Linked DNA regions of Homo sapiens. The protein of the gene in region 1 purifies or fractionates together with the protein of each later gene. This does not show direct contact. Each region holds a gene or a part of one and is shown on either strand. Other genes may lie near its edges.

Evidence for each region. Proteins that work in one complex are often made in the same cells at the same time.
Region 2: the proteins of CNTROB (region 1) and GOLGA3 purify together in Homo sapiens (affinity purification with mass spectrometry; one large-scale study listed by BioGRID and IntAct). This does not show direct contact.

Annotation. Positions count from the first base shown.
Region 1 is NC_000017.11:7,942,060-7,945,705, forward strand, and holds part of CNTROB (centrobin), read left to right. Parts: intron 1-1,331; coding exon 1,332-1,465; intron 1,466-2,063; coding exon 2,064-2,189; intron 2,190-2,416; coding exon 2,417-2,579; intron 2,580-3,646. UniProt on the Homo sapiens protein: Required for centriole duplication. Inhibition of centriole duplication leading to defects in cytokinesis.
Region 2 is NC_000012.12:132,818,802-132,822,447, reverse strand, and holds part of GOLGA3 (golgin subfamily A member 3), read left to right. Parts: intron 1-136; 5' UTR 137-319; coding exon 320-452; intron 453-3,646. UniProt on the Homo sapiens protein: Golgi auto-antigen; probably involved in maintaining Golgi structure.

The DNA.
Region 1 (3,646 bases):
AGTTTGAGACCAGTCTGGGCAACATAATGAGACCCCATCTCTACAAAAAATAAAAATATTAGCTGGGTGTTGTGGCACCAGCTTGTAGTCCCAGCTACTCTGGAGGCTGAGGTGGGAGGATCTCTTGAGTCTGGGAGGTCAAGACTGCAGTGAGCCATGATCACACCACTGCACTTTAGGCTAAGCAACAGAACAAGACTCTGTCTCAGAAGTAGGGGCTGAGAAATAACCACTATTTGGATTTAGAAATTGAGTTCTTTGGGCCATGCGCGGTGGCTCACACCTGTAATCTCTTTGGGAGACTGAGGCGGGTGGATCACGAGGTCAGGAGATTGAGACCATCCTGGCTAACACGGTGAAACCCCGTCTCTACTAAAAATACAAAAAATTAGCTGGGCGTGGTGGCACGCACCTGTAGTTGCAGCTACTTGGGAGGCTGATGCAGGAGAATTGCTTGAACCCGGGAGGCAGAGGTTGCAGTGAGCCGAGATCGCGCCACTGCACTCCAGCCTGGGTGACAGAGAGGGACTCCATCTCAAAAAAAAAAAAAAAAAAAAAAAAGAGGTTGAGTTCTTTATAGTAAAATACTATACGTGGAAATCAGATTTTAGTGAGTTGAAGGACTGTGGCTGAGAAAATGGAGACACTTATAGGTTGACTGCTTAAGGAGGAAGAGGCACTGCCATTTATTGAATGTCTACTGGCTTTCAGGTACTCTACTCAGGGTATTTTTTTTTTTTTTTTTTTTTTTTTTTTTTTTGAGACGGAGTCTCGCTGTGTCTCCCAGGTTGGAGTGCAGTGGCGCGATCTCGGCTCACTGCAAGCTCCGCCTCCCAGGTTCATGCCATTCTCCTGCCTCAGCCTCCCAAGTAGCTGGGACTACAGGCGCCCGCCAACACGCCCGGCTAATTTTTTGTATTTTTAGTAGAAACGGGGTTTCACCGTGTTAGCCAAGATGGTCTCGATCTCCTGACCTCGTGATCCGCCCGTCTCGGCCTCCCAAAGTGCTAGGATTACAGGCGTGAGCCACCGCGCCCAGCCTCAGGGTATGTTATATCAGACACGTAGAATGGATTTGATTGCTCTGTCGAACATTTATTTTAGCTAAGAAATTTATGTCTTTCACCCATAGTCATTTTCACTTTGATGTATGTTTAAAGTGCGAATATCTTAATAAGGAAAGGGAACCTCTTTCACTCCTTGAGGCAAAATTCTTGTTCTTCATCTCATATGAGGGGAAAGTTGGTACTGGATTTTGTCTACATTATATCCTCCATCCTCTTCTAAGCCCAAACAGATTTGGGCCGTTATCCCACCTTCCTTCACTCCAGGCCCGGTATGAAAGCCAGCGGATCCAGCTGGAGTCGGAGCTGGCTGTGCAGCTGGAGCAGCGGGTGACAGAGCGGCTGGCGCAGGCTCAGGAGAGCAGCCTACGGCAAGCAGCCTCCCTCAGGGAACATCACAGGTACGTGGGACTCACTGGGTGTCACTTCTCTCAGCCACAGCACGTATCGTTAGTGCCAGGCCTGTGTTCCCTTCAATCCCTTTGCCATGGTCCAGCACTGTGACTCCCAGGGTGCGCTAACTCCCATCAGCTGGGACCTGAGTCTCTCTCGGGAGGGCTGCCTTCACGCGTTCATGGAGAGCCAGAAGTGCCTGGGAATTTTCATCCCATAGGGAGTAGCCCTTAACCAAGAACTGATGGGTGCAGAATGATAGATGGTCCAGCTCCCTCACTGGGACAGTGCTGAGGTATGACCTGTGCTGTCTCCAGAGCTGCTCTGTCGGACTGAGCCTCCTCGCAGCCTGGCCTCACTTCTCCTCACACCCATTCTGCTGCCGAGATTTTCTGGAACTGCTTCCGAAATAAATTTATTTAAGTCTCTGCTTCTGAGGAACCCATCCTAAGACCCCAGCTTTGTCCTTGCCGCTTCCTGTGCCATGGCCAGGCTAGCTGACTGGCTATCTGGGTCACTGTCATGTGCACACATGATGTCTTTTTCTCAGTTGGTCACTTCTTCTGTCTCCAGTCTCAGGCCTCTTCTCCTACCTGTGCCCTGTAGGAAGCAGCTGCAGGACCTGAGTGGACAGCACCAGCAGGAGCTGGCCAGTCAGCTAGCTCAGTTCAAGGTGGAAATGGCAGAACGAGAGGAACGGCAACAGCAGGTGGCTGAGGACTACGAGCTCAGGTCCTGGTCCCCAGAGTGCCCCTTTCAGGCCCCAGCCCCTTTCCCATGGGTAGAGCCCAAACTGGGAACGGTGAAGAGCTGCTCCCTTGATTGATCTGTCCTCCTCTACATGGGCCCCAGCTCCTTTCAGAATATCAGATGTCCAACATTTCCCTTCTGGCTCTTTTTAGCTCCCAAGTATCTGCTTCCTTAAAGGCCCTGAGTCACTTCTTCTCTCTTTGCTTCAGACTGGCCCGGGAGCAAGCGCGAGTGTGCGAACTGCAGAGTGGGAACCAGCAGCTGGAGGAGCAGCGGGTGGAGCTGGTGGAAAGACTGCAGGCCATGCTGCAGGCCCACTGGGATGAGGCCAACCAGCTGCTCAGCACCACTCTCCCGCCGCCCAACCCTCCAGTACGCCTTACCCCTTGAGCTAAGCTTCTCCGTTATGTTCTATTTTTATTTTTATTTTTGAGACAGGGTCTCACTCTTGCCCAGGCTGGAGTGTACTGGTGAGATCATAGCTCATTGCAGCCTCGAACTCCTGGGCTCAAGTGATCCTCCCACCTCTAACTCCCAAAGTGCTGGGATTCCAGGCATAAGCTACCATGCCCAGCAAGAACTGTGTTCTAGATTCCTTCTTTGGAAATCTAGCTCCCTCCCAAGGGAAGTACTAAGTTCAGCTCCTAAGGCCTACATCAGGGGAGAAAAATCGGTGGACTTTACAAATAATAACTGCCTCAGCAAAATAAATCCTTTTTTCCATGGCCATAGCTCACTCAGACTGGCCCCATTCCATTGGGCATAACTCTAGTCTCCCAGTCCCAAGAGGGGACAAATGATACGTGGTACTAGTTTTGTGGAGGGACAGCTGAATTAATTATGAGGGAAAGGGCCAAAAATTGTTGCCAAGTCCTGCCCCAGAGTAGAGTAGGGAGTCTCACTTCCTAGCCCTTCATACGTTGATACTTCCCACTTCCTTCTTTTAATTATGAAATTCTAGCAGGTGTGGTGGTGCGCCTGTAATCTCAGCTATATGGGAGGCTAAAGCAGAAGGATCACTTGAGCTCAGGAGTTCAAGACTAGCCTAGGCAACATAGTGAGACCTCATCTCAAAAAAAGAAAAAGAAGAAAAAATTAGGATATTTTAATTTTAATTTTATTTATTTATATACTTATCATTTATTTATTTGAGACAAGGTCTCACTCTGTTGCCCAGAGCGCTCAAGCAATCTTCCTTCCTCAGCTTCCTGAGTAGCTGGGACTACACACACGTGCCATTGCCCCCAGCTAATTTTTAAATTTTTTGTAGAGATGGCATCTCTCTATGTTGCCAAGCCTGGTTCAAACTGCCAGCCTCAAACGGTCCTCCCAAAGTGTTGGGATTACAGGTGTGAGCCACTGCATCCGGAAATTTATAATCTTATTAAAGTGTTTGTACCATGTCTTATCTCTTTAAACCTACTGTGCTTTGACCCTTC
Region 2 (3,646 bases), on another chromosome or scaffold:
CAGGATTATTTGCTGAATGAAAAAGTTTGTATTTGTTTCTTGTACGTATGCAAATTGGGAACCAAATGCTAATTTTGTAATTGATACTTGAAATCTGACAAGTTTCATAATACATTTTGTCTCTCTCTCCTGTCAGGTATCATGATATTAGCTGGTTTGACATCAAGTCATTTGTGAGTCATCAGATCTTCTCCTGAAAATGGGAGACACAGTAGGGCCCCTCCCAGGAGCTCTTGGCTGTTGCTGATGGCAGAAGCCAAGCTTGTCCAAGGTTCACTTGTAGCCCCTCAGCGTCAGCTCAGCTGGTGTCGTCCTGACCATGGACGGCGCGTCGGCCGAGCAAGATGGCCTCCAGGAGGACAGATCCCACAGTGGCCCCTCGTCTCTCCCCGAGGCCCCACTGAAGCCCCCGGGCCCACTGGTGCCACCTGACCAGCAGGACAAAGTCCAGTGTAAGTCGTGAGGTTCCTCTGTGTGCTGGTCACAGGAGGACCTGGTGTTGAGGGAGGACGTGGTGTTGAGGGAGGATGTGGCGTTGAGACCACTGTGAGCTTTTCACTTAATTCAAAGTTGTTTTTTTTTTTTTTTTTTTTTGAGACGGAGTCTCGCTCTTTCGCCCAGGCTGGACTGCAGTGGCGTGATCTCGGCTCGCTGCAAGCTCCGCCTCCCGGGTTCATGCCATTCTCTTGCCCCAGCCTCCTGAGTAGCTGGGATTACAGGCGCCCGCCACCGCGCCCGGCTAATTTTTTGTATTTTTAGTAGAGACGGGGTTTCACCGTGTTAGCCAAGATGGTCTCGATCTCCTGACTTCGTGATCCGCCCGCCTCAGCCTCAGCCTCAAAGTGCTGGGATTACAGGTGTGAGCCACTGTGCCCGGCCCAAAGTATGTTTTAGTAACTGAATGATGCCACCTTTAGATCAGGCACATTCCTGCTAAACAGAACTCCATTAAACGTGTGGGGCAGCAGCAGTGTTTCCCTGAAGGGATCTATGGGTCTTTATCATGTTCCCTGCCTAAAATTCTACCTTTTTTTTTTTTCGACGTGGAGTTTTGCTCTGGGTGCCCGGGCTGGAGTGCAATGGCGAGATCTCGTTTCACTGCAACCTCCACTTCCCGGGTTCAAGCAATTCTTCTGCCTCAGCCTCCCGAGTAGCTGGGATTACAGGCATGCGCTACCACGCCCAGCTATTTTTTGTATTTTTAGTAGAGATGAGGTTTCTCCATGTTGGTCAGGCTGGCCACGAACTCCCAACCTCAGGTGATCCGCCCACCTTGGCATCCCAAAGTGCTGAGATTACAGGCGTGAGCCACTGCGCCCAGCCATTTTTTTTTTTTTTTTTTTTTTTTGAGACGGTGTCCTGTTCTGTCGCCCAGGCTGGAGTGCAGTGGCACCATCTCAGCTCACTGCAACCTCTGCCTCCTGGGTTCAAGCGATTCTCCTGCTTCAGCCTCCCGAGTAGCTGGGACTACAGGCACCTGCCACCACACCCAGCTATTTTTTGTATTTTTAGTAGAGACGGGGTTTCACCATGTTGGCCAGGCTGGTCTCGAACTCCTGATCTCAAATGATCCACCCACCTCAGCCCCAAAAAGTGCTGGGATTACAGGAGTGAGCCACTGTGCCTGGCCGAATTCTGCCTTTTTGATTGGTCAGTTGCTGAATTTGTAATAGCTAGAATTCAGAAGTCGTCCCGTAGAGATCTAAGGATTACGGAGCACAGTGTTATGTTAGCCCCCTGGGTTATTCACGTGTCAGAGGGAAAGGGTGACTTAGTTATTCACTCAGTTCTCATGCCTCTTCCTGGCCAGGAGGTTCAGTGCTTTAAAACTGTAGACTACAGATGTGCTAATTTACTAGCAGAAGTCACAGTCTAATTCCTGTAAAATGATACTCAGGCGCTTAGGATGGCTTTGCTGGTCCTTGCTACATAAGCATCAGGTGAGGCAGATAACAACTTAGAGGCCCAAGATCAAGAGTTCTGAGACCCGCGGCCGTGGAACCTGCTCTTAGATCTGCTGCTCAGGAGCAATGTGCCCTCGAGCAAGACGCTGGGTTAATCTCAGCCTCCGCCCCTTTTTCTATTTTAAACATTTTATTACTGTTTTTAGAGTCAGGGTGTTGCTCCATTGAGCAGGCTGAAGTGCAGTGGTGTAATCATAGCTCACGGCAGCCATGAACTCCTGGGCTTAAGTGATCCTCCTGCCTTGGTCTCTGGGGTAGCGGTGACTATCGATGCGTGTCAGCACGCCTAGCTGATTTTTTTTTTTTTGAGACGGAGTTTTGCTGTTGTTGTCCAGGCTGTAGTGCAATGGTGCGATCTCGGCTCATGGCAACCTCCGCCTCCCGGGTTCAAGCGATCTTCTGCCTCAGCCTCCTGAGTAGCTGGGATTACAGGCATGTGCCACCACGCCCAGCTAATTTTGTATTTTTAGTAGAGATGGAGTTTCCATGTTGATCAGGCTGGTTTTGAACTCCCAATCTCTGGTGATCCCCCCACCTTGGCCTCCCAAAGTGCTGGGATTGCAGGCGTGAGCCACCGCGCCCTGTTGCCTGGCTCATTTTAAAAACTTTTTGTATAAACAGTCTTGCTGTTGCCCGGGCTGGTCTTGAATTCCTGGCCTTGAGTTATCCTTCCACCTCGGCCTCCCAAAGTGCTGGGATTACAGGTGTGAGCCACTGCGCCCGGCCTAACCCAGTAACTTTTATCTGAAATGCAAGGTTCCCCCTCTCCCAGCAGTGGAGCTCACGGGTCCTTTGCATGAAAGGCGTCTCAGTGCGTTGGTCGGGTGCCCGTGGTCTGGCTTCCTGTCTGGCACCCCTGCTTTTATTCTGGTTTTTCTTTCGGGAGGCATGACAGTAAGTATCTGCTGTTAGTTTGAACTCACATTTGCAAGTGAAAGAAACCTTTTCTTTTTTTGAGACGGAGTCTCGCTCTGTTGCCCAGACTGGAGTGCAGTGGCACGACCTCAGCTTACTGCAAGCTCCACTTCGAGGGTTCACGCCATTCTTCTGCCTCAGCCTCCCAAGTAGCTGGGACTATAGGCGCCCGCCACCACGCCCAGCTAAGTCTTTGTATTTTTAGTAGAGACGGGGTTTCGCCGTGTTAGCCAGGATAGTCTCGATCTCCTGACCTCGTGATCCACCTGCCTCAGCTTCCCAAAGTGCTGGGATTACAGGCGTGAGCCACCGCGCCCGGCTAAGAAACTCATTTTTAATTTGCTTGAGCAAAAAGCAAATTTGCTGTCCTGCATGCACGTGGGATCCGAGGAATGCTGACCCCTGTGAGACACGGAGGTGTTGCCGGGCCTCCAGAGCCACCGGAACCAGGACCAGAACCCCCTGAGGACCCTCCCTCCCCCCTCACATGTCTTGGTTCTTTGACTGTGAACTGGCCCACCCACCAGTCAGCAGTTAGGGGGCAGGGAAAAGACTGAAAATCACTTCATTGAAAGAAATCTTTCTTTGTTCCATTTGATGAGGAAATATGTTTTAGTTTGTGTTGTGGGTAATTTGTATATAATCATTTTAGTGGGTGAACTGAGGTAACACGTGGGTATAGAATTGTCACTGGTCCAACCCAGGCCTTTACCCAGCAGGCTGTCATCAAGCAGAAGCGCGGTTCTGGGCTGTCTCTGCTTCACGGG